Homo sapiens: one gene and its partners. The protein of the gene in region 3 purifies or fractionates together with the protein of the main gene of each other region. This does not show direct contact. Each region holds a gene or a part of one and is shown on either strand. Other genes may lie near its edges.

The links.
Region 1: the proteins of PCDH12 (region 3) and TMTC4 purify together in Homo sapiens (affinity purification with mass spectrometry; 2 studies listed by BioGRID and IntAct, with this or other methods). This does not show direct contact.
Region 2: the proteins of PCDH12 (region 3) and CDON purify together in Homo sapiens (affinity purification with mass spectrometry; 2 studies listed by BioGRID and IntAct, with this or other methods). This does not show direct contact.
Region 4: the proteins of PCDH12 (region 3) and ALCAM purify together in Homo sapiens (affinity purification with mass spectrometry; 2 studies listed by BioGRID and IntAct, with this or other methods). This does not show direct contact.

Annotation. Positions count from the first base shown.
Region 1 is NC_000013.11:100,628,849-100,637,074, forward strand, and holds part of TMTC4 (protein O-mannosyl-transferase TMTC4), read right to left. Parts: intron 7,887-8,226; coding exon 7,684-7,886; intron 6,348-7,683; coding exon 6,176-6,347; intron 6,089-6,175; coding exon 5,957-6,088; intron 1-5,956. UniProt on the Homo sapiens protein: Transfers mannosyl residues to the hydroxyl group of serine or threonine residues.
Region 2 is NC_000011.10:126,003,236-126,011,461, forward strand, and holds part of CDON (cell adhesion molecule-related/down-regulated by oncogenes isoform 2 precursor), read right to left. Parts: intron 7,460-8,226; coding exon 7,106-7,459; intron 2,823-7,105; coding exon 2,524-2,822; intron 842-2,523; coding exon 667-841; intron 1-666. UniProt on the Homo sapiens protein: Component of a cell-surface receptor complex that mediates cell-cell interactions between muscle precursor cells. Promotes differentiation of myogenic cells.
Region 3 is NC_000005.10:141,942,486-141,948,833, forward strand, and holds the end of PCDH12 (protocadherin-12 precursor), read right to left. Parts: intron 3,321-6,348; coding exon 2,896-3,320; 3' UTR 1,096-2,895; downstream 1-1,095. UniProt on the Homo sapiens protein: Cellular adhesion molecule that may play an important role in cell-cell interactions at interendothelial junctions. Acts as a regulator of cell migration, probably via increasing cell-cell adhesion.
Region 4 is NC_000003.12:105,544,572-105,552,797, forward strand, and holds part of ALCAM (CD166 antigen isoform 1 precursor), read left to right. Parts: intron 1-651; coding exon 652-764; intron 765-2,577; coding exon 2,578-2,713; intron 2,714-2,818; coding exon 2,819-2,952; intron 2,953-5,555; coding exon 5,556-5,688; intron 5,689-7,572; coding exon 7,573-7,611; intron 7,612-7,896; coding exon 7,897-8,014; coding exon of another isoform or gene 8,015-8,018; exon of another isoform or gene 8,019-8,226. UniProt on the Homo sapiens protein: Cell adhesion molecule that mediates both heterotypic cell-cell contacts via its interaction with CD6, as well as homotypic cell-cell contacts. Promotes T-cell activation and proliferation via its interactions with CD6.

The DNA of each region.
Region 1 (8,226 bases), on a different chromosome or scaffold from region 3:
CAATAAAAAGAATTTGTTGGCCGGGCGCAGTGCCTCATGCCTGTAATCCTAGTACTGCAGGAGGCCAAAATGGGTAGATCACCTGAGGTCAGGAGTTCGAGACCAGCGTGTCCAACATGGTGAAACCCCATCTCTACTAAAAATACAAAAATTAGCTGGGTGTGGTAGTGCACGCCTGTAATCTCAGCTACTTGGGAGGGTGAGACAGGAGAATCGCTTGAACCCAGGAGTTGGAGGCTGCAGTGAGGCAAGAGCATGCCACTGCACTTCAGCCAGGGCGACAGAGCAAGACTCTGTCTCACAAAAAGAAAAAGAAAAAGTGAAAGAAAAAGAAAAGTATTTGTTGATGATCAAAAGCTCCTTTCGGGACTTTACAATACAAAGTGAGTAGCAAGCCCAGAGGAGACGATGCTACAGAAACTCACTCAATCAGAAGCATGAAGTGTGGGTGCTGCTAACAACAGTCACGGTGAATGGTAAGATGGTGTGTAGCTGGCACACCTTGAGTGGCACCCACCAGCTGGGAGCGGTGTTGCGTGCTGTGTGATCGCGGTCTTTCCTCACGGTGGCTCGAGGCCGTGGCTGCTGTGACCCTCTCTTCTGAGTTGATAAACTGCTTCGGGGCCATTCAGCGTCTCATCTAGGGCTGTGAAGTTGGATTAGAACCAGGCTCTGAAGCCTGTGTTTCTTCCCACTAGATAATACACATTGATTACAGTGCTGGGGGAAGATGAGGGTGACTGCTCGAGGCACTTTCTAGATCCACTCATTCATACCACTGGCCTTTTTCCTAAGTAAAATCACATTTCTTTTTATATGTTATTGTCCCCCAAAGTTTACATTAAACCCTCAGCACCCCAGAATGAAAATGTATTTGGAGATAGGGTCTTTAAAGAGGTAAGTAAGGTCAAATGAGGTCATATGGTTGGGCCCCCATCCATATGACCCCAGTCCAGTATGAATGGCGTCCTTACAGAAAGAGGAAATATGGACACAGACACCAGAGATATGTGTGCACAGAAGACACACCACGTGAGGACACAGGGGGAAGGTGCCGTCTGCAAGCTAAGGAGAGAGGCCTCACAAGAAACCAACCCTGCTGACACCCTGATGTGACAATTCCAGCATTTACAACAGTGAGAAAATTAACTGTGGTCTAAGCCACCCAATCTGTGTGTATGTGTGTGTGTGTGTGTGTGTGTGTGTGTGTGTGTGTGTATGTGTGTGTGTGTGTTTATAGCAGCCTGAGAAAACTAATAAAATCTTGAAATACAGAAGTGGTTTAAACACATTCAAATAACATTATGTCTGAACACTGCTTCCAAATGACCCCTGAAAACACAACCACATCCTGCCTTATCCATCTTAACCTACAGTTACAGCACTTCGTCAAACATACTTAGATTTCTGGAAGAATATGCAGCAGTGCATATTAACAGGTTTTCTTAACTGCCAATTTAAAAGCATATAGATTTATGTTTACCCACTCTGATGAAAGGACTCACAAGCAGAGAAATTGCAGGTGATAAAAATGTGTGTACTACCATGCACCACACAGTAGAATTTAAGCTTTCTGCATCAAATTATTGTCCATTCATAGGTATTTTTGTCCTCAAATTGTAGCTTGGAGGAGGCTCAGTTAATGCTATCGCTGAAGTGTGTGTTGAGAAAAGTGCTCTAAATGATTAGAATTTGAGCTTCCCCCAACCCAGCTTGGACATGTGACTTCACCTCCTCTCGTATGCACAAAACAACCTAGGGCCGGAGAATCCAATCTGTCAGTGATGTCCTTGTAGTCCTCAGAATACAAATACAGCTTCTACTCAGACATCAACACGACGCCCGCCTCTTCCGCCCCAAGCTCCTGCTGTTTTCCTTTGTTCCAGGCAAATTCTGTTTTCTCAATAAAAAGCCCAGACAAAGAGTTCAACCGCCCTCTGCAGTATAGACAGTGTTCTGTTAGACACTCAGAATGCCAGAGACCAGAAGATCAAAGGAGAAGGACGTGGGACTCTGGAACAGGAACTAGTTAAAAATCTGATACAGCCTTAGAAGGCAGGCCATCATTAAGAATTGGTAAACAGGTTTCCCTAGAGGCCAGCTTTATCCTATGGGTTAGGTGGAGGGAATTCTTTGAATAAAAAATAGCTGCCTAGATTGCAAAACAAAACAAAACAGAACAAAAATCTCACAACCAGGTCACTTAAAATAGTGTTTAGAGAATGACTGACTTTTGTTTCCCTGAAATATAAATGATTGAAAAGCTTGTTTATTCTTCAACTTTCCCCCTAGCATTTGTGATGCACATGCTGAGGCAATGAACTAGCACAGAAGTCGAAGATAAAACAAACATTACAACCCAGTAACATGTAAATGCAAGAAAGTGAGAGTATCAGTTATGAAAGGCACCTTTAATACCAGGGCTAAACTAATTTGTTATAAATATTCTGGCAACATCTAATGTTAAACTTAAAATGTTTTGAAAACATAAAAATCCTATAGCATCCTGGGTCACTTACTCCTTAAGAAAATACCTCATTGTGGCATATGATCTGTTTCATTGTTAAAAGAATTTATTATAGAATTGTATCACAGAGTTGATGGTGTGACATACTTTTAAGCCTTAAAAACTAAAAATGATTATAAGTATACTTGGTATCTCATCCACAGTAGTCTCAGTGAATTCAACTTCCCTTTGGCTGAATTCAATAACTAATATTGATTGTCTACCATATGCAAGGCACTGTGCCTTGACATGCAGACCAGGGACCAGCACTACCTACACTGACATTGCAATCTCTCAAAAAAGATGAGTCTTAGCTCACACATCTGGCCCTAAATTAGAGCCAGTTGCCAATTTCTTACTTTATATTCAATAGATATCAAATGAAACCAGTATAGAAAATGTGTCCCCTGAAATAATGGGACTGAAGGAAACCAGTGTCTTCCTAAGTGAGATTACTTTCCTAAAATTAACTTACATTTTTTCAAAAAAAAGGAAGTAAAGATAATTTTATGACACTTCAATTTAAAAAGAAACTCCCAAAAATCTCAATCTTGCTTATATTGAATAGAATCATTGAAAAATGTTCTTGAGAAAGGACTATTACCACTGGGTCCATTTTGAAGATGAGGTCTTATATGTATTCCTTAAATTAAGAGGAAACCACACACACACACACACACACACACACACACACACACACTCTCTCTCTCTCTCTCTCTCTCTCTCTCTCTCTCTCTCTGTCTTTCTCCTAATACTTACGTGCATTCCCACAAGCACACGCCCTGTGTTTTCTAGCCTGTAACATATGAAATCACTTCCCGGGCAGATTTTTGGGTTCAGACATCACCTATGTTCCATCCCCCTTATTTACTAGAGGCACCTGGGCACATCACCATACCAGGTCTCTCTGTAGCCACCTACATTACTAACCTAGATAATGTCAGTTTAATCTTGCTATGCTTCAGTTTCTCCCATCTGGGAAAACAGAGAAAATAATACGCTGTCTCTCTAAAAAGCTGAGTGAGAGGATAATAGAGATGAATTATAGAGCCTCTGTAAAGAAATCTGAACTCCTTGTGGTGAGGAACTCCACACATAGAAGGGGCAATTACTGCGATTCAAACAGTAAAGGAAAAATAAAGCAGATCTATTAACGTTTAAGAAATTAAATCACAGGCAATTTATTTTTGGTAGCATAAAATAAATTGATAAGTCAACAAATCAAACTAAAGATAAAAGCTGAAAGTAATTCACTATTTTATCTAAGTCTCTTAACTAAAATATGAATGACAGGTTTTAATCCAAGAAAAAGATAAGTAGCCAGCATCTCTTATATATTATTCTTTACTTAAGTTTCATAATAAGATGTCAACTATTCATTAGTTTTGTTTATATAATTTTGTCTGAAATCACTGCTTTCCCTTAAATATGGAACATAGACATGAAACAGATCCAGAGAGCTCCCCGTCTCCACCCAGGAGGATTACATTTAAGCAATCTAGGCAGCTCTTATGCTGAGGACCTAAGAGAGAATGATCATTATTTCATGATAATAATCTATACTAAAAGAAAATTCTTCTAACCTAACCCCTTGGCCCCCATTTTGAGCAAATAGCGTTCTCTTCCCAACATAATGCAAAACCCAAACTGAAATGAACCTACAAAAGCTAACACTTGGCTGGGCGCGGAGGCTCATGCCTGTAATCCCAGCACTTTGGGAGGCTGAGGATGGGCGAATCACGAGGTCAGGAGTTCGAGACCAGCCTGGCTAACATAGTGAAACCCCGTCTCTACTAAAAATACAAAAATTAGCCGGGCATAGTGGCGCATGCCTGTCCTAGCTACTCGGGAGGCTGAGGCAGGAGAATCGCTTGAACCTGGGAGGCGGAGGTTGCAGTGAGCCGAGATCAGGCCACTGCACTCCAGCCTGGGCAACAGAGCAAGACTCCATCTCAGGGAAAAAAAAAAAAAAAAAAAAAAAAAAAAAAGCTAACACTTTCTGAGCACCTACTGCTGGCCACCGTGTGAGGGCATTTTAGTTCATTCAGCCCTAACAACAAATCCAGCAGATAGGTATTATCCACTTCTGATAGAAAAGGGCACTGCAAGTTTTAAAAAGTGTAGTTTTGCCCAAAGAGGCACAGCTAGTCAAGTGAAGAGCTTGGATTCATCAAGAATACAAGTGAAAAAATTCCTACCAGATTGCTTCAAACAAAAACACTGCCAATTTTAGAGTACAGTCATGCATTACTTGATGACAACAAGGATACATTCTGAGAAATGCATTGTTAGCTGATTTTGTCATTGTTTGAACATCATAAGAGTGTACTTACACAACCCTAGATGGTAAAGCCTACTATACACCTAGGCTATGTGTGGTCTAGCCCGCTGCTCCTAGGCCAGAAACCTGTGTAGCGTGTGACTGTACTGAATGCTGGAGGCAATGGTAACACAATGGTAAGGATTTGTGTATCTAAACATAGAAAAGAGGCAGTAAAAATATTGGTCGGGTGCAGTGGCTCACGCCTGTAATCCCAGCATCTGGGAGGCTGAAGCAGACGGATCACTTGAGGTCAGGAGTTCAAGATCAGCTTGGCCAACATGGTGAAACTCTGTCTCTACTAAAAATACAAAAATTAGCTGGGTGTGGTAGCAAGCGCCTGTAATCTAGCTACTCAGGAGGCTGAGGCCGGAGAATCCCTTGAACCCGGGAGGTGGAGGCTGCAGTGAGCCGAGATCGCACCACTGCACTCCAGCCTGGGTGACAAGAGAAAGACCCAGTCTCAAAAAAAAAAAAAAAAGGTATAATTTTATGGGACCATGGTCATATATATGCAATATGCGGTTTGCTGACTGAAACACTGTTACATGGCACATGACTGTATGTACATTTATGTTTACCTAATCTGACCCCCAAAAAATCACTAGCAGGGCACCCAAAGGTGACATAAATGTGTACTATTGTGCAGCACATAGCATAAACTTCCTGAACTACATTATTGCCAATTTGTAGGCATTACTACCCCTTTAAATTCCAGCTTGGAGGAGGCTAGTTAATGCTATCACTAGAGAGTGGGTTTTGAAAAGTGTGCTCTAGACATCAGAATCTGTGCCGTGCCCACCCTCAGTCTGAATACGCAATGTCACCTCCCCTGAAGCTACTTCAAAGGGTGAGTAGATCATCTGGAAGATGATTAAGACCTCATTAGAGTCATCTGTTTCATTGATACTGTCTGCTTTTAAATGACTTCTTTTCAATTTTGGCTGAGTGGAATTTTAATGAATCTTATCAAAATCATTAAAAAAAACCATACATAACAAAGAAAAACCCAAGTATTCGGTCATGGTCTTACACTAAATACTGCGCGACAGGAAATGTTCTTATTCAGCCCAAGAACTTAACAGATACCCTAGTAAGGTCCCTTTAAAAGAAATCTGGCAGCTAGGTACCTTAGCATTGAGGGGACACACAGACAGAGCACTTCTGAAAAGCTGTTCCTCACTCCGCCACTCGCCGCTGCGCAGCACACATCTCAGCGTGTTGATGAATAAGATTCCCAGCACGACAGCGGCAATGAGTTTCTTAAGAACAGAAAGACATGGTAATTGTCACCAGTGAGATGCATCCGGTCATTCTGTTCATCAGCTGGCACCACTCTCAGTTGATACCTTTTTCTTGGTATGTTTGCTCAGGGCTCCGAATCCAAAAGTCAGCAGCACACAGTACCCAACGCTGGGGAGGTAGAGGACACGCTCTGCGACCACGAAGCCCACTCGGAAGAACAGGTTACTCGCGGGGAGAAATGGGATAACGAGAAATCCCAGGCCCAGAGTAAGGATCCTGGATGATGAAAAGTATTTAAATAAATGGCTATTTCCAGACTTCTCAAGAAAAACATCCTACTCCACATTAAATTAATGCTAAAGACCTTTTCTTTTCCATGGCATCAACTGAGAAAAGATATTGTTGTCAGCCAAAGGATATCATCAGTAGAGACAGTTTAGCTTGGTAGCATGTGGATAAGGCACAAAAATATTCCTCTGGCACTTCACAGCGAGTCTAAGGGTAAAACTCAAAAGCCATACAATTCGTATGGAGAAAATTAGCATGATCGCATTTCTGAGGCCTTATTAATTCACCTACTCCTCACTATGCCTCAAACCATTTAGGTACTGAACAGTTCAGTGGATATTGTTGGTCTCAATTAATTCAAAAACTGTCCCAATCAGTTTTCACGGGGAAAAAAAAATTCCTCCAAAATGTAATGAGAATAATAACACTTAAGTAAGTTTAAAGTTTATGAAATTTGAAATAAACAAATACCATTTTTTGGTTGCTACATCACCACCATAAATTTCAGTCAGGGAGATACGAAGCTGAGCATTGAAACACTTCTGGAACCACCTGATCATTCCCAATGTCCCCTATGATGCAAGAGGATGAATTAAGACTCTAGGTCAATTTTGGTGGCTCCTTCTTGGGCCCTGTGGCTACAGTATTTCTATAAAAATCCCATTTTCTGTGGATAAGGGAACTGGGACTAAAGTTTGTGGCTCCTTAGAATTACTAACCAATTCAACACACAGGTAAACTTAAAACTTAATTTATTTTGAGACATTACTAATCTAATTCCATAAACACTTAGGCTTAAAGGAAATCACCTTAAACAGTTTTCTTTTTCATGAAACACATTTGTTTTCCCCAATTATTTTCTCAATAACTTTTTTTTCCATCAAGAAAGAACAGTCTCTTTGGGGCAATGGCTTATTTTGTACCCAGCTACAACAGAGGGAATCATGGCAGCGTTCACCAGGGTGTTTTGAGGAAGAATTGTGCAATAATGGGCACAACACACATCAATTACACTCTCTGTTCTGACCGTAAATTACTCTTTACCACCTATGGTGAAAAGGATCGCAAAATGCTACTTCCTAGGGAAAGGGGAAGGGAGGGATGAAGCAGTCATCCGTAGCTCCTCTTCCAGCCTCGCTCCCCACCCGCGGAAGCCAGCCATGGATTCCAAATGGATGGAACTCATCCTAGCCATAAATATGCATTTGAAACAAATGTCCTTAGACGTGACTTCCACAAAATCATAAAAATGATCAGCGCAGGATTTCACAAAACGCTTCTGACTCAACCAGCGTGGAACTTAAGATTCAGTGCTGCCTCTTACCTTCTCTTGTGGCCGTCTTCAGAGCACAGGGCTTGGCATATCAGGCCAATTAGGCAGAACCAGAGTGCTGCAAGTGCAATTACCCTCCAGTCGCTGATGGACTTAATGAGGGGGATGCAGCCCATTGACCAATCAAAACACAGCCACCAGGGACACAGCAGCAGCCAGGCATTCAATGAATAGTAGTAATTGTAGTTTACGGCCTGCCAGTCAAAAGGAGAACAAACATCTATTTGATACTGAACTTAAAAAACACATATATACGCACTAACTTCACTTTGGAGGCACTCATATGCTTCTGCTCAATGAAAGCAGTTGTATCAAATAAAATGTTGCCAACGTGTATTGGGTATGTGACTATAGTCTGTAAAAATGTATTAAATGTATTCAGATTTTGGTATATAAAAATATGGCAAAGCCATCAGACTATGCAATACATTCGTTATATTTCTGGCAAAGCTATGATCTATTTGCTGCCTGAAGCCTGTGACCTCTAAATCTGAGGACCCAGGGTCACCTATACACCCAATAACATAACAGGCT
Region 2 (8,226 bases), on a different chromosome or scaffold from region 3:
CATTCAATAAATATTAGCTGAACTGAATACTGTCTTGTAGTTGGTATTAAGTTACACATCTTAGCTTTCTTATCAAAGTATAAGCTCTGTCGGGATGGATCTCATTTTGACCATCTTCATTTTCCCTATATCATCTATCCTCATTGCCTTGTATAACATAAGCTTTCAAAAACATCTGTGGAATATTCTATAGAATAGGACAATACAATCACGTAAATGTGACCCCAAAATGGAAGGGGGAGGCTATAATAGGGTCGTTTAGTGAATTTACATATAGGAATTTCTACTATCCAAAAGAATTCTGGTTGGGCACAGTGGCTCACGCCTATAATCCCAGCACTTTGGGAGGCTGAGGTGGGCGGATCACGAGGTCAGGAGATCGAGACCATCCTGGCTAACACTGTGAAGCCCCGTCTCTACCAAAAATACAAAAAATTAGCCGGGCATGGTGGCACGCACCTGTAGTCACAGCTACTCGGGAGGCTGAGGCCGGAGAACTGCTTGAACCGGGGAGGCGGAGGTTGCAGTGAGCTGAGATTGTGCTACTGCACTCCAGCCTGCGTGACAGAGCAAGACTCCATCTCAAAAAAAATAAATTAATAATTCTCACTAATAAATTGACATCAGGGCAGCCAGCTCATTCCTCCAAAGGAAGCCCTCACTCACCTTTGCTGGTTCGGAAGGTAAGCATGGCAGGTTGGCCTTCACCTGCTGCGCTTCTTGCTACCATCAAGACTTCATAAAGACTAGATGGCTCCAGCTCAGCTAAATGGAGCTCATTTTCACTTCCTGGGACTCGAACCGTGTGCCAGCTTCCCAGCATGCCAACCCCATCATCCAGCTGCCCAAGAGAAAACACACCAGAAAAGAAAAGCAGGAGATGGAGGATAGGAAATCTTTCGGTCACATTTGATCAAAACTAGGATTCATTTAATTCTAGAAGAGTTTTAAGAAGTAATACAGCATGGTAAGTAAAAAAGACACAATACTTCTTCATATTAAGAAATAGAAGATCTGCTGCAAGAACGCTGCAATTCTCACTGTAGAAAGACTCCTGGCTCTGCATCTGACCACTAATGTGTGGCCTCAAGCAAGTTACTGCCCTCCCAGACTCTGTTTCCTTTACTTGTAATGGAAACAATGCCTTCTTTCTTCCTGGGCTAATGAAGAATAAAATAAGTATAAAATAATAGGTATCATTGGTAATTATATAATACACATAATAGATACATGGTAAATTAAGACAATATTATATTATGTTATATGTATATGAATTATATAATTATGTATATTTCCAGCATTCTTGCTTCATGTCTTGACACTGTTCAATATGTGTTAGAGGAAATAAAAAGATCTAATCAGTTGTTTCTTGATTAATGGAACCAAGAAACAATATTGCATGGAGGTATTAGGGTAGATGAGATTACTAGCAAAACTTCTTTATCTAGAATCATTCATCAGGTTGGAAATAGTACATAAACCTTAAAATATCATCATATTAAAATATCATCATGTTATTTTTCCTAGTCATTAAAAACATTACCATTCAACAATGTATACTAAAATTTCTTGGACAAAGAAAATGATTTTAAATATGGAATGCATCCCTCCCATTTCATTCATGTACTGGTCTCATTAAACAGAGAGGAGCTTTTCCATTCTGCTCCAACACAAGCCCATGGGGAAAATGATATTTGAAGAGTTAACTGAGAGAGGCCCAAGGTTTACCACCAAAAATGACCTAACAATGTATGACTTTAATACAATTAAAAAGGCAACTTGAAGCTGGGCACAGTGGCTCATGCCTGTAATCCCAGCACTTTGGGAGGATTAGGTGGTGGATCACTTGAGGTCAGGAGTTCAAGACCAGTCTGGCTAATATGGCAAAACCCCATCTCTACTAAAAATACAAAAAAATTAGCCAGGTGTGGTAGTGCATGCCTGCAATCCCAGCTACTTGGGAGGCTAAGGCACGAGAACTGCTGGAACCCGGGAGGCAGCAGTTGCAGTGAGACGAGATCACACCACTGCACTGTGGCCTGAGTAACAGAGCAAAACCCTGTCTCAAAAAAAAAAAAAAAAACAAACAAACAAACAAAAAAAAACTTGAAATGCAAACAATTGGCATAAATTATGCCAGAAACTCTGTTCAAACAGTTGTTTTTAATAAGAAACTGCTTTATTTGCTACATAAATGGTATTCTACTACCTTAGAGAGGGAAGGAATTTGTGTTTTAAAAGTGGTTATAGAGCTTTATGTTGAAGGGCTAAAACATTTGAATACACATGTAAAGACATCATTGGGTTCCTAGAATTCCAATTTGGGGGGAAATTATACTTCATTCTCAGTGCTTTCCTAGGATTGGTAAATCCAGCATGACTGGGATCTCTCTGACAAACTCATCAGTCTGGAAGACTCTTGTTCTGTTTCCTGCCATTCTACAAATGAAAAGGCAACAGTATATGTTATACAAAGAACGTTCAGGTGTGAGCCGAGAAAGATGATAAACGACAAGACATTACCTTTCGATACTTCACAAAGTAAGCATTGATGGGCAGCCCACCATCCTTGCCTGCCCTCCACACCAGGTTGTACGTGTCTGGTGTGTGGGTCTGTGGGGGGCTCAGTATGATGGGGGCATCAGGAACAGAGATGCCGCTGGCGTTTTTCTCTGGTGCTGATTCCACTGCACTGGGATGGACCTTCACCGGAAATGAGCTCAGTAACCCAGTTTCTGAACCATCTCTCTTACTTCTGTCATCATTCTGAGCAGCATCAGGAAGTGTGACTGTCTCTGCTTTTGTATTTGTTTCAAAAGGAACTGCAGGGAGAGAGAGAGGAGACAGCTTGAAGATACTCCTCATTTCATTGTCTTCTACCCAGTTTGTGACGTGACTGCCCTCACTTGTATTGTTAGCACAATTTGAGCCCCAGAAGTTAAAACGGGTAACACTGCCATTTATAATTCATGGAAATGTTTAACCTCTAATTGCAATCTTTTCTCATGGTGGAGCAAATGAATTACTTGAAAAACCAATTATATGATGCAATAGTGTAGCAGTTAAACGTTCTTATTTTTTCCTTGTTCTCTAAGAGTATTCTTTTTAGTAATAATCATTTGCCAGTTTAACCTCAGAAGATTTCAAGTTGGCCAGGCATGGTGGCTGACACCTGTAATCCCAGAACTTTGGGAGGCCGAGGCAGGGGAATCACTTGAGCCCAGCAGTTCAAGACCAGCCTGGGCAACATGGTGAAACCCCATCTCTACAAAAAACACCAAAATTACCCAGGCGTGGTGGCGCATACCTGTAGTCCCAGCTACTTGGGAGGCTGAGGTGGGAGGATCACCTGAGCCTGGGAAGGTTGAGGCTGCAGTGAGCCATGATCGTGCCACTGCACTCCAGCCTGGGCAACAGGCCAGCTAACTTCTACCCAAGGGGATCCTGCAACTACACCTCTCAAAAAAATTTAAAAAGATAAAACAAGCAGGCAGCCTTAACACTTACTACTAACAGCATACAGAATATACAGAGGAAGATAAAAATAATTTCTTTGCACTGAAAAAAAAAATAGGTTGCATACAGTCAAAGATAATTACTGAGCACATATTATGTGCCAAGCATTGTACTATCTTATAAACATAATCTCATTTAATTCTCCAAACATTCTTAGGTAGATGGTAATACTCCCATGTTACAGTTGAAGAAATTAAGGTTCAGAGAGACTAAGTGAAGGCTGCCAGAAGAATGTTCATGGTGCTGCTGTGAAAAAAAAAATAATAAGAAAGAACAATTTATGAAAACAAATATACTGCCAGCACAATAAAACCTAAGGAGTGACGGCTTGGTTTCTCTAAAGTGCTATTAATACTGGCAACAGAAAATTCTATTTTTCACTCCTTTTGTGGAGGAAGAGTGCAGAGCAAACAACGTACTACTTTTATGTCCAAAATGAAGTCAGATTCCTGGTAAAAGATGGGTGTGTTTTTGGGAGAAGGGCTGCACTGCAGTAGAGAACCAACAGAAAACAGGACTGACAGTGTAAGGTTAGTTCTCTGTTAGTTTAAAAGAGAGAAAGGGTGTCCCAGAAGCATCCTCCATCAGAGAAAACAAGAAGCTAGTGAGGAAATAATGTAGAAGAAAACTAATTAAGTTCACTGAGACAACTTCAAAATATTGCTCCTGGAACAGCAGTGTTTATCTAGTGAGTCAGACTGCGGACTGATGTTCAGGGTGTGATCTGGTGCCTGCTAATGCAGACAGAAGGACTCGGCAAGTGGAGATAATTAACTGTGGCTTGAGGTAGTGGAGAAGGACCTTTTTATCATTAGAAGTTTAGTGGATCCTCCGGGCAGTTTTCCACTGGGAAGTGGGATCTGGCTGTAAAAGAGTTTAAATGCCACATGCCTCATACAGAAGCATGAGAAAAACGTTAATGCTGCAGCTTCTCCACTGTCTGAGTATCAAAATTCCATTTCTGTAAGACTTAAGATGCAATGAGACCTCTCCAGAACTTTTATTAAAAGGGGGATTCAATTAACTTTCTTCTTCTGTTTCAATGATATAATCTGGGCACTTGGGAGATACACTCAATACAACTGAAAAGACCTTACCAGTACTTCCCCGGTGTTTTTGCATGTATTATCTCAACTTATCTTCAGAACTCTATGAAATGGGTAGAACAGGCATCTAGCATCTTTTAAGGTAGAATGTTTTTTGAATCGGAAAAGAGATTGATGCAACTACGGCAATGTAAATAAATTTAATGACTCTAAGTGGAAACTAATTAAACAGGGAGGGAGTACAACCATATCTGTCAAAGATGCTCCCACTGTGACCACTGCTGCCAGCAACTCACAACCCAAACTATTTAGGAAACCCGCACCAACTCTCATTATAGTTTTAAAGAGTACCACACACTCTACAAATATTTGTACATCCAGGACCTCAAAAACCCAAAGTCTCTGGAAAAAACAAAAGGCTGGGGAGAGAGTTATCTCTCTCTCTAACCTAGCTTGCTCTCCCCTTTACAGTACAGTAGTCAAATGACTTGTCAGGATGCTAGAATTTCATAAGGCTCAGATTCCTATGCAAAGAAGTGAGTTGTCATGTATTGTTTTGAGTTTTAATAAACTCGGTTGGATCTTAATAATTATACTAGAAAATTAAAAAAAGACAACGTAGGACCTCTTTGGTAGAATACAGCTGATGGGGTTACCATACATAAAAGTAGTATTTATCGAGACATAAAATCCTGGAGCACAGGGGAATCTTAAAGATCTTCTAAAGTTAGTTCACATAACTTCAAAGGGCTTCCGATTTCTCATATTTAAGGTGAGGAAGTTCGACAAAATATCTAGTTTCATCAGCCATAAAACTATGACATCTGTCTCTCTACACCCTGTATTCACATAATCGCTTCAGCTAAATTCTACCCAAGGAGCTCCTGCAACTACACCTGTCATGCAGTTAACAATTTCGAGCAGAGCCACTCTTATTTTTGCCTAGAGGAATAGAAATATAAACACACACGCACATTCATTTATAGGTGCAAATTTATGTAACACTGAACTACTTTCTTCATTTAAGGATTCTTAATGTTTCTAAAATCAGTAACTATTTCTTCCTTCCCTTAACACTGCCACAAGAGATCACTGTAATTTAATAATAATTAGACAGTAACAATCATAACTTTATACTTAGTATCAATGGAGGGCTTTCTATTGCCAGACACCATTCTAAGCACTTACTACGCATTAACTCCTTGGATTCTCACATCAACCCTATGAGTGGGGCACCTTCACTATACCTGTTACACAGATGAGGAAACAGAACAGAGAAGTGCAGTGATTTGCCCTTGGGTTACAAAGCTGCTAAGTGGCAGAGCCAGGATTCTGACACAGCCCACGTGCTCAGCCTCCACATCTCTCCCACCTCTAACATGCACAAGAGGATAAGGGGAAGTCCCTGGTCTCCACCACTTCTCCTCCGCCTCCAGCTTCATTCAGAGCAAGGGCGTCCTTGTTTGCACGTGAAGGGAAATCGTATGTGCACATACGAACTCTTTTTTATTTCAACCATCACTCCTCTGCCAAGGACCCCCCGTTGACCACTGCTCTGGCTAAGGGTGCCCACACACTGGTCGTGTGGTCCAGACTGTGGCGGATGGGCCAGGGGAGAGGAACTGTGGGGACCAGACTGTGAACTCACTGAAGCAGGAAATGCTGGAGCCCCAGACCTGTCTAGAAGGAGGAATGTGGGCTCTGAGCTCAGCATAAGCACTGCTCCTCGACCCTATGGGCTCTTTAACCTGTGGGACCATGGCCCCAGGCAGAAGAGAGCCACGCTAAGCCCCTTAAAGCAGAGGCCAGGGTCAGAGACCTCAGTTACCCAAAACTAAAGGCAGTACTGCCTTTGATGTTGGGCCTCTCACAAGACAAATAAGATGACAATCTACACCCAACTGACTAGCTGTTGGGGAAAGCTGCCCTAAATGCCTACTGATGGAAGGTCTGAATTTGAATTAAGTCAAGTTTGAGTCCATTTCCATGAATATTAATAGTCTATATACCAGTACATCAAAAATCATATATAGTTTTTAAGTCATCATCACAAAAAATCAGTAAAATATGAAGAATTAATATTATACATCCCATTAGAAAATAACTTTGGATAAGACACAGGGAATATATACATACAGGTATTACTTAATAGTACCACAACTCTACATTCTCAATGAAGGCCAGTCCTTTAGACCCAATACTGTAGTTATCAAGGGCATAAAAAATGTCTGCAATATCATTTTCGGTAGCTTAGAAAACCAAAAGCATTCATCTCAAAGACAGGTTATATTCTGGGCCTGCTCCCAAATGAGAGCTTTCTGTATTGCACCTACAATCTTAACAAACACATCAGAAACAGAGACCAAAATTCATGTGATTCACATAAAGTGAAATACCAAGAAATACAGTTCTACATTTCACTGTCATCAGGAAAAAATATAGAGAGATTGCTGGATTCATTAAAATAACATATTTCAAATCACTTTATCTTCTATTATAAAAGGAAATTACTCAACTAAAAATAAATAATAATGGCAACTCACCAACCATGAGAGATGCTTCTGCCTGTGTGGTACCATGTTCATTTGCAGCTTCGCAGATGTATTTCCCCGCATGTTCCTGAGTCACAGCCTGAATATGGAGAGAGCTTGCACCAGCTTGGGACAGGACGAAGTACACAGGCTCCAGGTTCAAGCCCTCAGGTCTTGATAACTGTGATTTTCGGGATTTCGATCTCAGGACTTGAGATGGATGGCTGGTTATCAATCCATGGCTGTCATACCAACGAATGACCGGAACCGGCAGCCCACTGGCATTGCAGGACAGAGTAACAAAGTCTCCGTCTGCAACCTTTGCACTTACTGGTGCCGTAATTATAACTGGCTTGAATCCACCGTCTATTAAAAAAGTAATTCACATATGAAAAATGAAGAACATTGTAGTACCTACGATGCAAAACAACTTCATCCTATCACGTAAATGTGGGAGTAATGATTAAAACCAAGATAGCTACCTCCTTATTAGTTCCCTTCTCAACTTTCACCAAGTAAGACTGTCAATAAATGGTAGAGTTGTTTCATAGCTGTGGGCTCCTAAACATTTCCTACGTAAATTTCCTGTCCTTCAGAAAGAAAGGAATATATATAAAGAAATCTTTTGAGAGTTTTCTGAAGGTACACTACACATATCTGACCACTGCAAATATAGAACATATAAGGTTGAAACCTCAGACCTTAACAGGAAAAATGTGTAAATAAGTATAAAAGTAGATAATTTTCCTTCAAGAAAATGGTCAATTTTGTGGGGTAGGGTGGGAAGGGAGGCAGGAATCTGATTATAAAAAGCGTGGGAGAAAAAAACCTGTTCTCAATAAAAGCTGATACTGATGATACCTGTATGTTTTTTCCCATAGGCATGAACAGAATTTTTGTTTCTAAATTAAAGTGGCACCAAATCTTTCCTTTTGGTCCTGGTATTCTCTGGAGGTATTTTGAAGAGAGCTTACAATGGAATATTGATCAAAGTAAATGACATTTTCTCTAGCATGTCTGTCTTTTTCTCCAGTCCTCCTTCCCATGTCTGACAAAACCAACCAACAACTGATACCGGATTTCTGGATTTTTGCCAAGCTACTGAGTGTAAAATGCTATCTCACTGGTCAGAA
Region 3 (6,348 bases):
TGGTGGAAACTGTTTTGAGCGTGTCCAAAGTCTCAGCTTTGACATCTTGGCTGATGTCAAGAAATTTCTGTAACCTTCCTGTTCAACACACCCAGTTCTGTTACCATAGACACGGTCTCACTCTGAGCTGTTATTGGGAAAGGTGCTGGTATCAGCTCATCAGGAGGGGACACATGGTGCAGGAGAGAACACTGTCCCTCACGTACATACACCCCCATTCTGATCAAAGTTCAGAACAGGAGCAGCTCTACGCAGGAGTTCTCCAGGTTCTGCAGGGAAGGCAGGGCTGAGGGCTGACCTAGAGGATTGTAGTGCTTTCTAATCTTAATTGGGCCCGAAATCTCTTTGAGAATCTGATCTAAGCACCTACTTCTTTCCATAGAAAAAATGCATATCCTCCCAATTTTGCATGTAGTTCAGTAGGTTCATAGATCCTGAAGTCTAACCAAAGACGTCAGATTAAGAATCCTTGATGTATTAAAAAGACCACCATACTAAATCCCAGATCCAAATCCTGATTTGAGCAAGCACTCAGTTAAATGTCTTAATTTGGAAAGCTCTCCCCCACAAACCTGCCAGGTGGCCTTGGGCAAGTCATCTGCCGTTTCTTTCTATATTCTTGGCTATAAAATGAAGAGTTGAAATAGATAAAGTTCAGACTCTTTATGACAACTGCCCATGTCTGTGGATGTTTAGATAGTATCTTAAAGCAATGCTGTGTAACCTTTTAAAGGTCAAGGTTTCCTTTGAGAATCTGATGAGAATTTTGTATCTTCTGCCTAAAAAAGTGTCTAGACACAAAGTTTTACCTAGTATTCAGGGTGCCCAAGGAGTACAGATTTAGGGCTTTTGAACTAGAATGATGCAATGGTCCCATGTGTCTAGTGATCCAGTTGCCAGCTATAGCTCCAGCTTCCTCAGGTCATCTCCCCCTGCCCACTCTCTTCTCTCCACCCTCCCAACATCTGCTCTGCACTGAAAATCTGCTGGTAACTGGGAGGTCACCATGGTCTACTCCAGTACTGTGGTTCTCAGACTTTGCTTTTACATCACAGAGTCTTTTTTTCTAATGAAGTCCTACCTGGAGCTCCAATATGGATAAAAGGGGCCTCTGAAGCATTTATTGACACATTTATTCATTCATACATCCATTCAACAGCTATTCATCAAGTGTTGCTTTGTAGCAGGCACCTGGCTGGTCAGGCTGGAGACCCTGCCTGCCTGCTTGATATCCCCCAGTTTCTCTCACTGGCCCACAGAACCCAACAGTTCTGTGATCCAGCCTGAAAATCACAGATTCTGTAAGGAGATCACTCTGGCCTAGAGTGAGGTGAGGAGAAACTCTGCCCCTGAAACTCATAACTTTGGGGAGCCTCATTTTCTTCATCTGTAAAATGGAATAATGATACCACACTGTATTCCAAGTATGTATGATGCACATTATCCCTAGTTGGGAGTATGATTGGCCCATTTCTTGAACAGTGAACATGAGCACTGAGCTCCAAGAAAGGACAAAAAGAGGAGCAGATAGAGGAACTTTTGCCTGCAGTGTCCAGGAGAGACCCACACTATTTAGAAGCTAGCTGATTGGCTGCTCGGAAATTTCCAAGAAAATTATAAAGCTGAACCTTGGGAAAATATCTGCTGTTTCTTCCCTCCCCCATCCCCTGGAAGGCTGGCTGCTGTCAGTGCCGATTTCATAGACCCAGTTCACACAGCGTCCTCTGGGATTCACAAGCCTGAACCTGCAATGACAGAGGAAGGTTTACCCGCAAATGGGGTTGGGAAAGATGACATCCGCACTTGAAGAGCTACTTGTTGGGAAAGAACGGGTCTGCATCAGTTCAGATCCAAGTTCCTTTTGCCTTGTGCTTGGGAATGTAGAGAGGTGCGGGCCTGGATGGCTTTGGAAATGTTCCTTTCAACAGTGTTTCCCGAGGGAGCTCGAGCAAGTTCACTGCTGCCAACAGCTCACCTCCAGGGCCTTCCCTTCTCCTGTCTTTGGTTGGCAGGCTGGTGTCAAGGTTGAAGGCATGGGTTTTGGTGTTGGCCCAGCCTGGGTCCAAATCCTGGCTCTGGCTCTACTCCCTGCTTGATCTTGGGAAAGCCACTTGACCTCTCCAAGCCCCATATCCGTGTCTGTGAAATGGGGTTAATAATACCTCCCTCCCAGGATTGTTGGAAAATCAAATTAAATCCTATTGTAAAGCCTGGTGCCTGGCTCATGTAAATGCTTTATAAATAGTTGTGCTTTCTTAGCTCTAATTTTGCAGCTGAGAAGCAGATTAGTTGGTAACATAGTGATAGGGGAACAGGGGTAAGAGCACACATGTCTGCTATTTGTGTACCTGTTACTGTGTACCAAGGTGCCCCACTCCTGTCCAGGCCCAGTGTGACGGTCTTGCCAGGGATTGGATGACAAATAAACCCCACTCTATTACTCTTCCCTTCTCCCTCTTGACAGGTGCAAACAGGAGAATGAATCACTGCTTTTCCTTTATTGATAGGTCAGAGAGCATTTCCTGGCACCCCCAGGGTACAGCCCCCTGACTCCTGCTACCCAAGAAGGCCACCCTTTCCTGCCTGTGATACTCCGTGGCATCTGTTCTGCCAGAGGACTGACCCTTTGTGCTCCACATATGTTTTGCCAGGAAACACTTATCTCAGCCACAAACCGTCCCTGTCCTCCAAAAGACTCAGAGCTGCTTACAAGGGGCTGCTTTGGTCAGTCAGCTGTTAGTCCTGGGGCTCTTGCCTCCTCTGTGGGGGTAGCATCAGTCACCCTAAAGTTCTCAGGCCGCCGCTAGCTAGTGAGTTACAAGATTTTAGAAACCAGCTCTTGTCCACAGATCCTCAGGCCCCTGGTTCTTGGATCCAGAGGCGTCTGAGGTATGTTCACAGGCACCTGCTGCTGCTGCTGCTGCCTCTGCTCTTGCCCTCAGTCCCCGTCTTTCCACCTGGGTCCCCTTGCACTTTCATGCCTGAGGCTGCACTGGTGGCCAAGTCTAAACTGAGGGTCCTCCCGCAGACCGAGAGCCGCCGCAGCGCCTCGGAGGCGGCCTCCACGGGCATGCTGGAGCGCTGTTCCAGCAGCATCTCCAGCAGTGAGCTCATCTCCGAGACAAAGGTGCTGGCCAGCCTCGTGCCTGTTGGGCTCAGCTCTGGTGCCTCTGCCTTGCCGAACGTCTGGAAGGTCCTTGGCTCCTCCGTGGCTGCAGCATCCGGGGAGATCACATTGTCACGGTAGTTGGTGGTGAGGGGCAAAGAGAGTCTCGCCATCCAGGCCGGGTCAGGGGCGCTCAGCCGGTCCAGGGCCAGACCTGTGGGGGAAGGAGGGGACACAGTGAGGGCCAGGCTCCGGGAAGGGCCAGGCGGGTGAGGGTGGGGCAATGAGCAGGGCAAGGGCAGTGGACAAAGGAGGGAAGGGAAATGGCAGGGGACAGACAGAGTGGCCAGACGGGGACAGGAAGGAAGAGGCCCTGACAGGGAAGCTCCCTGGGTAGGAAAGCAGTCGACTGACACACCCGGGCGAACCAAGTGGGGAAGCAGCAGGAGGAGGAGAAGGCCTAGAAGTAGAAATTTGCCGATTTCTGAAGAATTTCCCAATCTGGGCGTGTGTTTCCAGTCTCAGTGTCTTCTATATTTCATCCAGGATTTTTACCCCTCAGGGCGCCTTCTCCCCTCAGGGCTCCACTAGCTGAGGATGGAGGGAAAATCCCTTTTCTTTGCCAAGGCTGGAGTTCCTGACTTAGCGCTGCCTTTTTTGGTTCCCATCCATAATAATAGGGACCACATATTAGGTACTTACGTGATGAGCAATTTACATAATTATTTCATTTAACTTCACAAACCTTTGAGGTCAAGAGTATTATTCCCATTTGATGGATGAGGAAACTGAAGCTGAAAGAAGTTAAGTCACACATCTGCTAGGCAACCAAACCTCAATTTGATGCCAGGTCTGATGACTTTGAAGCCTATGATGGCACCACCCTACCCTCTCTCTGAAGAGCTGGCCCTTCCTCCCCCTGGATACTCCAGGTGCCCAGCTGGGGCCTCTGGAATTCCCAGGCTACCTAAGGTCTGCACTGTTACCACCTGGCCCCAGATCCTCAAATCCTCCTCAACATCATCTCTCAAGCTGCTGGAACCCTGGCCTAGAGTCAGGCTGGGGAGGGGCTGCCTGTCCAAGGGCTGTCCCAGGAGAGGGACTGGGGTAGTGGCGGTGGCAAGTCAGCCTGGTGGCTGGGAATTCAAAAAACTGGCCCCTACATTTGCAATGCCACAGTCACCCTTCTTTTCCCATCCCTTTAACAGAAAATCCTGTTTCAAGAAACCAGTCCCAGGCCTGATGGTAGAGACCAAGCCAGAGGAAAGAAATTATAAGTCTTGGAGTTAAGAAACAGTGTCTTAAAAAAATTAAAAAAAAAAAAAAAAGCACAACATCTACTTAACATTTATCTAATGTTTGCCTAAGGTGAGTTACTTTAAAATCTGCGCACAGAATGAAAGACTGGAAGGAGATATGTCAAAATGTTAACTGAAATTACCTCTGGGCAGAAGCAATCCATTCTCTTTTTGTTTATCTATGTTTTTCTATATTAACCAAATATTACTTATGTAATTTGAACAAGTTATTCCGAAGTATGTGTAGTCATTTATTGTACTGATAAATGAATCTCTGCCCTGCATTCTGGACTGTGCAGCTTGTGAGACACTGTTGGGCTCCTGCCCTACTGGATCCTTGGGTTTAGCCCCATGCCTGGGACTTAGTGAATGTTTGTTGAATGATTGAATGAACATAAATATTAACCTTCAACATTTGGGAAATGCAAACCTTAGTTCCTTGAGACTCTGAGGCTATAAGGTTGGATGGAACTCTTGGTGTTATAGAATCAGGCCTTTCCTTTTACATGGGTCAGAGAGCTTCAGAAGGAGTGAAGCTTGGAATGAGAAAATCACTGGGGCGTATGAGAACAGCTGAAAAGTGATGCTGAATTCACCCAGCATCACCCACCAGTTCTAGCTGCAGGTGGGCACTGGGCCAACCTGGGTTTGATTTCCCAGCTTTGCAGCTTAGGGGCAGTGTGTGTGACCTTGGGAAAATGGCTTAACCTCTCTAAGCTCCCGTTTCCTCTTAGGAAGTGGTGAGACAGTAGTACGTATCTTGTGGAGTTGTTGTGAGGTTCAGTGAGTTCATGCAACCAGGAAAACATTATCATGGTCGCATTCTCAAGTGGGGCAATCTGAATCCGAAGCAGCAAATCTGAAGCAATCTGAAGCAGATCTGAAGCAGCAAGATCCCAGTCTCCCCATGGCAGTCCAGCCTGTGAGCAGCAAAGGCTTTTCTGCCCCTCCTCTTTCCTTACCCCCAACTCCTTACAGTGCCCCTGTGTTCAGTACCCTTTGTGCTGTGGGCAAGCAGGACCGTGTGGGAACTGACCCCACAGGTTCCAGCCAGAGCTGACCAATAGAGATAGAATCCAAAGCTATATCCCCCAGCCATACATAGCCAGTGAGCACTTGAAATGTGGCTGGTATGGCAGAACTGAATATTTTATTTTATTTAATTTTAATTCACTTAAATTTAAATAGCCACTTGTCGCTAGTGACTACCTCATTGAACAACACAGCTCTAAAATTTACAGCCACACTGCCTGTGTTAATAACCATCCACGAGCTGCACAACCTTGGGCAAATTATGAAACACCCCTGACCCTCACATTTTTCCTTTATGAAATGGGGATAATGAATAGCCCCTATCTCATAAGATTTTCTCATGAGGTACTTAGAACAGGGCCTAGCACATAGAAAGTGCCCAATAAACATTAGCAATATTTTTTAACCAAGGAAAGAGAAGTCCCTGCCATACCTTCAGTGTGTCTGCAGCCAGATGGAGCACATGAGAAACAGTGTTAACTACATAGATAGAAAACCACAGCACAGGGATGGTCTGCCGTGGGGTGTGTTACCAAAGGAGGCTGACCAATGTCCACAGCAGGGGCGGGGGGCGCTAGCAGATTCTTGAATTCAAGTTCACATTATGTATTTATTGTCAAAGCTAATTATTTCTCTGCAAAAAAATCTTTTTGTTTTCATTGCAATTGTTAGCATATTAAAGAGTTGACCTGGTTCCCAGGGTGAAAGGGTATTGAAACACACCAAACGCCAATGAGTGGTAAGAAGTCCATAGAGGACAGGCTGGCTCAGGGTTTGGCTCCCCTTCAATCACTGGTGAGCTGGGTGACTCTGGGAAGGCTACTTGATTTTTTTGAGCCTCGGTTTGCTCATCTGTAAATTCGAGGTAATAATTATCTACTTGAGGGGATTGGTTGGAGGCTTAAATGAGAT
Region 4 (8,226 bases), on a different chromosome or scaffold from region 3:
ATTATTTATCTCTGCATCTCTCATCAGTGCTTGGGACTTAGTAGCTGTACAATAAATACTTGTTCAGTTGAGTTGGAATTTTCTCATACAGATCAGACTATGACAGTAAGATTTTTATAAAGATTGTTTTCCATCAACTGGATGAGAAATGGAATAGCACTTTTTAAAAATATCTGCTGCTATAGTAAATTCTCTCTGAAGAAACACAACTACTATCTCATGGTTTTTCAATTTATCACCTGCTGTCTAAAGATGCTTGATTTTCCAACATTTATGCCTTACTGTCTCTTTATATAATATTTACCTAGTCATCATCTTTATTTTCTTCCAGAAGTGACTTAAGATTTTTTTTTCTTAAGGTGATAGGCCCTAGGGGAATATTTATATCCCCTCAAAATATCAATCACGTTAACTGCAAATAAATGGATAATCAATTAGATTGACCACTCTCTTGTCTAAACTAGTCTCAAGGCTGGCTTGAAAAACTAGGCTAATCATGCTATAGTCCAATTATTTTAGTCATATAAATCAGTTCTGAATGTTCAAATGCAGTTAGAAGAAATTTATTTTCTTTCATCTTTTCTTCTCCAAAATATTTTGACTATCTTACATTTCAGAGTTAGCACTTTGAACAGATTTTCTGCTTCACAGATTTGGATTTGTCCTTAAACCCAAGTGGAGAAGTGACTAGACAGATTGGTGATGCCCTACCCGTGTCATGCACAATATCTGCTAGCAGGAATGCAACTGTGGTATGGATGAAAGTAAGTAATATTTTTGGTACTACCCTGCTGTTTGGTTTGATTTCTTTTTAGGTTTCTTATGCACTTTATATTGTATTCAAGTAGGTATATTCATGGATGTGTTTATATACCAGCTCTCTCTCTCTCTCTGTTTCTGATAAGAGAAATAAAATAACAATAAAATTTTAGAGGTGCTCAACACGGTGACATCCATAATTGGTATTCTGAAACTTAGTTTGGGGTGTTATGTCAATTATGTGTATATACTAATTATACACACACCACACGCATGTGTGCACATACAAACATAGTTATATACCACAGGGCTTAATAATTTACAGTGTGTTTTTGCCCACATTATCCTTACGTGATATTTACAACAACCCTGTGAAATACAAAGATTATTATTTTCCCCACATTCTTCATATAAAGAAATTGAAGGGAAATAAATCAGAAAGCTCATAACTGACAGAGTAGAGACTCAAGGCCAGACCTTACTGAGTATGAATACTATGCTTTGATAAGACACCTTTTGTCTCTCTGCTGCTGAGACCACTCTTAAGTTTCTGAAAACAGGTTCCACTGGATCAAGGGCTCCTAGAAAGCAATCCCTTTTATCCCTGAGCTATAGTAGAATACCTGGAACATAGTAGGAGTTAATTCAGTATTCCCTGAACAAGTGCTTATACTCTTGTAATTGTCTGAAATGTAGGCCATTGGCTATCCTTTTAGAGTAAGGAAGTGTGACTGATAATTGGTGATTTGAGACAAGGTTATCACCAAAGGAAAAGGTTGTGATTGCGATCCCTCCACTTAAACCCTTGGCTAGTATATCCAAACTCCCAGTGCATTTGTTACCAGAGCATGACATGTGACAAGAACCCTTAACCCATGATGGGTTCAGAAAACAACACATACCATTTGAAATAGGAGTTGACAAGAATTACCTTTATAAGAAACTGTGGAGAAATATTTTTCTAGAGTTTCTTTTTGATGGAAATATATTGATGAAATTATTTTGTATTGCTTTACTGCCTGCCTTTTGATCCTTTTTAACACTCGATCCTCTGCTACTTGTTGTCTTACTCTGTGAGCTCAGTTTCTTATTGTACTCTCTTTCAGCCACAGCCTCATCACAACTTGTTCACTAAAATAAAGTGCCACTTCCTATGCTGCAATCTAGCATGATATGTTTGTAGTAATCAGTGATCACAAGGCTAGACAAGTTCTAGGCAACTAGACTAATTCATAATCATTTGAACACTCATTGCATGTTTTACTATAGGACTAGAGAAACTAAGTTTACTGTGGTTTAAACTGTTTGTACAATCAACTGCAATCACTGTTATGAATTAACTGTCATGAACAGCTCATGTATTCAAAATAGTGATGATCAGTATTCCCTGATTATTGGTTAGTTAATGGGGAGTGGGAAAAAATATCCTAATGGACAAAGACCACATAATCTTAGGATTGTGTCTAGTTGCCTGCTTAGGAGCATTTCAATTCCTGACATAATAGGATTATTTTCTGTATATCAGGCTATTTTTTAAAATTAAATGATACATTTCCTTTGTTCATAGAAATTGGAATAGAACGCTTTCCAAATTATAAATTCAGTAAATGAAAGAGCGTGAAATAAAAATCTGACATGTCTGACTCTAAAACAACAAAAGAAAAAGGAAATCTATTTTGAAAGCATCTGAAGTTAAGAAAAAGAAGTTTGCATTTATATTATTCCCAGAAGAATTGTTTTAGGCTTAATTATTATCTAATAAATACACTGAGAATTTTAATTCTGCCACATGAGGTAATTTACTTTTTATTTAATCAGGATAACATCAGGCTTCGATCTAGCCCGTCATTTTCTAGTCTTCATTATCAGGATGCTGGAAACTATGTCTGCGAAACTGCTCTGCAGGAGGTTGAAGGACTAAAGAAAAGAGAGTCATTGACTCTCATTGTAGAAGGTAATAAAATACTTGGGCACTAATTCAAATTGTTCTTTGAGAATTTTTTACCTGGTTTCTTTTATGATCTCAGTTCAACATCTTATTTTAATTGTAATATTTCAGGCAAACCTCAAATAAAAATGACAAAGAAAACTGATCCCAGTGGACTATCTAAAACAATAATCTGCCATGTGGAAGGTTTTCCAAAGCCAGCCATTCAATGGACAATTACTGGCAGTGGAAGCGTCATAAACCAAGCAAGTATTTGTCTTCTTGTTATATGCTGCACTTCGTCCAATGCGTTTTTTTTCCTTCACGAACCTACCCTATAGGTTGGTTTGTTACCACATAAAATTTGCAGTGTGTAGGTTGGTTTGTTACCACATAGAATTTGCAGTACATGCTCAGAGGAAGCTTTTGCTAACTTCTTAATTTTCCTAGAGGAAGAACATGGCTCAAAGAGAAATTTTATCCCAGGGCCATGGAGAAGGGAAGAACCATTGTGTCATGGTCAGTATCTGTTTTTAAAAGAATATAAATTAGGTATTACTTCATGATCATTCATTCCTAAAATGTGAGTGATTAAAACATTAAGATATACACTTTCCTGCAAAATAAGCTCATGCATCTCAGTATAAGTGAACTCTAATACTGTGCTCAACTTATGCACATTAAGGGGTGTTACTTCTTAAAACTATGTCCTCGTGTAGGAATGGTGGAGAAGAACACAGTTACTGCTTATGAATGTGTGGTCTGACATGCCTATGCAGTGCTAGGGCCAGAATAAGGCAAGCTACATATATAGTGCCTAGGATGTGCCCTTCTGAACAAAAGGGTCATAAACCAGACCTTAATATTTGTACCTTTTTATTTTAGTAATAGTAAAGGGTTAAGGATTTGTTAACACTACCTGTTATTTTCTTTTACTATTAAGTCTTTGACCCTCCCCTTAAAGGAAAAATGAGAATCTGGCCTACCACTAGGGATTCAGAACTGTAATCCCAGTAATTTGCCAATCTGCTTGGGTTGCTGACATACTTGCTAATTCCATTGTTCTCTACAACAGTCTTCGTGTCTCCCTCTTCTCAGTATAATCTGTAAAGGCTTCTCAGGAGCACCCAGAGGTACCACTGGATTATTTAAATCTTCTGTACTTCTCAGATTTTGACCCAGTTGAAATTTGAGAAGACATATATAAAGCAAAGAGCTGTAAATTAATTTTAAGTTAAAATCTCCACTCTTCCTCTTTCTAGGGAAGTTGGGCCACTGTCCCAGCTTACGCCATGCAGTTTTGCAGTGCAAAGTGGATTTTGGCTCTTTCAACTATAGGTGATGCATATATAGCTGCATAACTCTAGATATGGAAAGCCCTCAAAAGAGTAGGCACACGTGAAGTGAATGACTCCTGATTTGGTTAAGTGTGATGGGGACACACAGTAAGAAAGCATATAAGAGGAGGCAAAGAAGCTCTGGGCTCCTCAAACCTAGGAAAATGCAGTTTTCTTGATTTGGAATAAAGACTTGAACCATCTAAATTGCTGACAATGTGCAGATCTATTTTTAGCATCAAAAATGGTGGTTTCTTTTCTACTCTATTGTTTTTGCTCTCTAGTTCAATTAAGTGATAACTGCAGCAAAAAAGAACCTTTAGGTACTGGTAATACAGACATAGAAAACAGAAACATAAGCAGACAGTAAGTTTTTGATTAATGAAAAGATATGAAGATTTAAAAGACCATCCTAGAAATGAGAAAATATATTTTGTAGAGTTTAAAGTAACAAAAACAAAGATTCCGTGAGAAAGTCAGATGAAAAATCCTAGTACGAAGTGAAAAAATAGCAGGTAAATTTACTGTGAGGATAAAAATAATAATGCCATCTTTCATTGTCAAGGAGAAAGATTGATTCTGGCCCACTGGGTGATATGTTATTTTTCTTGTTCTGGGATTTGTGCTGATGCATCCATAATCACAATTTTATTTGTTCCCTTCTCAGATACATGGTGAATCTGTTATTTTACAACTAGAAGATGTCTCTGCCCCTCCTCCACCCCAGCAACTAGAAGATAACCAAAACAGGAGAATAGCTCTTGTCCTCAAGGCACTTACCATGTAGTTGAGGAGAAAGCAAACAATATAGAAAGAGAAAAATGTAGGGAATGAGTTCATAAGATGACCGAGAAAAGAGTGCAAGTACATTATTTGCCTCAACCTTGTTGGGTTTAGGAGTCAAATCCTAGGGATGAGATTAAAGTAAATTGTATTTTATATTTGAAGGAATTAAATGCAGTGATTACCCTCATTAACACCTCACAAACATCAGAGGGACAGCAATCACTGAAAAATCATCCATCCTCTGTATTTACAACAGAAAACTTTAGAAAAAAATGGTTTCATGTACCCATGAGCAAATTATACATACATACATACTTTGATATAATGGTTTAAGATAAAGGAATTAATTCCCACAGTGAAGAACAGTGACTAAATTTATAAATAATTAAATTCATATATTTATTGGTGGAAAGTTGGTGTTTAAATAGTCACCAATTAATTATTTTGAAACAAGTATCATCAGGCCAAAATGTTGACTAAACCTGAGATTCTATTTAAAAAGAAGAGTTTAATTAACTTAATTATTAGAATTCACAAAAGAAACATAAACAGAAATTTCATTATGGATTTACTAATCTTTGTAGATATTGGCATACATGGGTCTTGATCTATGATCTTACATAGCTTTTGAACACCAGAATGCTCTATAGAGCACCACGCCTATCCTATTACAGTCATCATTACTCTTTCCTATGCTTTTTAATCCATTTTGATTTCTAAACCCACCTTTTTTCTTCTTTTTCCAGACAGAGGAATCTCCTTATATTAATGGCAGGTATTATAGTAAAATTATCATTTCCCCTGAAGAGAATGTTACATTAACTTGCACAGCAGAAAACCAACTGGAGAGAACAGTAAACTCCTTGAATGTCTCTGCTAGTGAGTATTTTATTTCTGGCATTACAAAAGTAAGAAAATTTGAAGTTATTCTTCATTAGTTTAAAATCTTCAATTCCATCTTCCTGTACTGCATTATGGTAAGTTTTATTTATTTATTTTGCATTTGGTATCATCATCATAAGGTTATTTTTTCTTTTTTCCTGTCCATTCTTGTACTATCCTTGTCTTGACAGTTAAATCATTTCATGTTTTATGGGTCAGAGGCCTTATCCTGTACAGGAATAGTTCCCAAAAGCAACAGAGAATAAAAAATAAGTTTCTCTTATTTAATTCATGTTTTATGTTCAGAGTGGAGATAATTCAAAGATCATCTTAAAACATTTTTGTAACAGTTTTAAATTTGGTAAATTTGTAATTCCCTTTGATCTATTATTTTGCCTTCTAATTCTTTGTGGTATTTATCCTACCCTTATGTTGTACTAGAATGCCACAAGCTTAAAGTCATTTAGTAAACTAGCAAGAGTGATTTTAGAATTCATGAATCTAGTTTACAAAACTGTTCCTTTTGTCATATCATATTTAAACTATAGCCGAAAATCAGATAAGTGAAACTATCTCAGAGAATGTGGAAAAATCTGTCGATGTTGAAATCAGGGTAATACATACATACCAACAACAGCTTCTTCAGAAAACAATTGTCATTTAATGTGAAATTGTCCATAATCTTCAATTCTATAGTTGTTCCTATTGTTTTGTCAACCTTAAATCAGGACTGGCCTAGAATGAGGCTCAGTTCTGGACAGGATGCTAACTGACCTGCCAAACTTTTATTCTTCATTCAGTTGGAAACCTGTATATGACATTAGCAGGCTAGGACTACACTAGCTGGGAATTAGCAAGAGCTAGGAGAAAATAATCATCAAAAAATAATGGTCCCTCACAGATTATGACTGGAATATAAAGGCCTAATGGATTGACAGGATAAAAGAACCAAACAAATTTAACTCTAAGATAGAAGCATTGACTTCTCAGAATGCAATTCAGTGAGTATTGATTTGTCCCACCTAGGAAGAGAACCTACCCTTTCTTCCTGAACACAAGTTTCTCTTTTTATGTTAACCCATTGAATGGTATGCTTCAGTTTTCTAGGCCTTGCAGTGACTTTATCAACATTTAATATAGTCGTTTTCAAATTCAGTGAGCACCTCCTGAGATGCCAATTTAGCATGTATGAGGAGAGGTCCGGGAATCTGCATTTTATCAAATGTCACTGGCAGTTCCGATGCATGCCCATGCACTTTGAAGTTTATTTATAGAGTTTAATATTAGATAATAATTCAACACAGTGGTAATTCTTAAAATGGACAAAGAGCATGGCATTATCAGAGTCATTTGGAGAGCTTTGCAAACATCATGTATGTTGCTTCTTAATCTCGGAGGTATCCCCAGTTTTAACCTCTACTCCTACTACTTTGAGAACATCTCTAGTGGTAAGTCCTTGACACTGGAGGATGACAATGAATTCTCCTATATCGGGCAGGAAAGTTGAGAAAAGTTGATAAACATCACACTGTAGACTTCCTAGGTGCCGACTTGCTTCCCTAAAAAAAGAATGACTATTAAAAGGTGGTGGATAGTGGGAAAATCAATATGGATTTCAGATTAATTCTATAGGTCATCAGTTATGAAATTTTCTATGGTAGATTAATATCTTTGCAGTTGTAGCTCCTCTCCTTAAAACAAGATTAATTTCTTTGTAGGCAAGGTCATACTTTATTAAGTGTGATTTTTTTTTTTTTACTGTTAGCTATAGAATAGACATTTTATCTTTGAGTATTATTACATCATACTATAATGGTAAAGGTGACTTTCATATATCAACAAATTTTGTTTTTAATTTCATATTAACATTTTTCATTTCAGTAAGTATTCCAGAACACGATGAGGCAGACGAGATAAGTGGTAGGTACTATGCTGCCGACTCTTCTTCCTTGACTATCAGCTCAAGATTTATGAAGTGTCATGGTATAAGTAATTTTCTTAGCTGTCCACAATTTTGACTTGAATTAAAATACCAAAGACAAGATAGTAAGAATGCTAAAATTTTACCCTTTAAAAATCACAAGTTTGCATGTTAATTACTGTAGTGAGCTTTAGTCATTTTTAATACAAAGTAATAGCTAGATTGACTTTCTGAAAATCCTTGGCATTGTCTGTAATTGCATGGACTTTTCTTCTTTGTTGCAGATGAAAACAGAGAAAAGGTGAATGACCAGGCAAAACTAATTGTGGGAATCGTTGTTGGTCTCCTCCTTGCTGCCCTTGTTGCTGGTGTCGTCTACTGGCTGTACATGAAGAAGTCAAAGTGAGTTGTGGAAAAAAGATCTTCATCGTTCATTGACTTTCACTGGGAGAAAATACAATGTGCTAATTTTGCTCACTCCAGTCGTGCATATAATTTATACAATAAGGAAGATGTATCCCCAAATCAGGTTGATTATATATTTTGTTTCAACTAATTTTGACTACACTGCCTTTGTCAGGGACATGGCTTGGGATACTGTTTCACATGTGTCC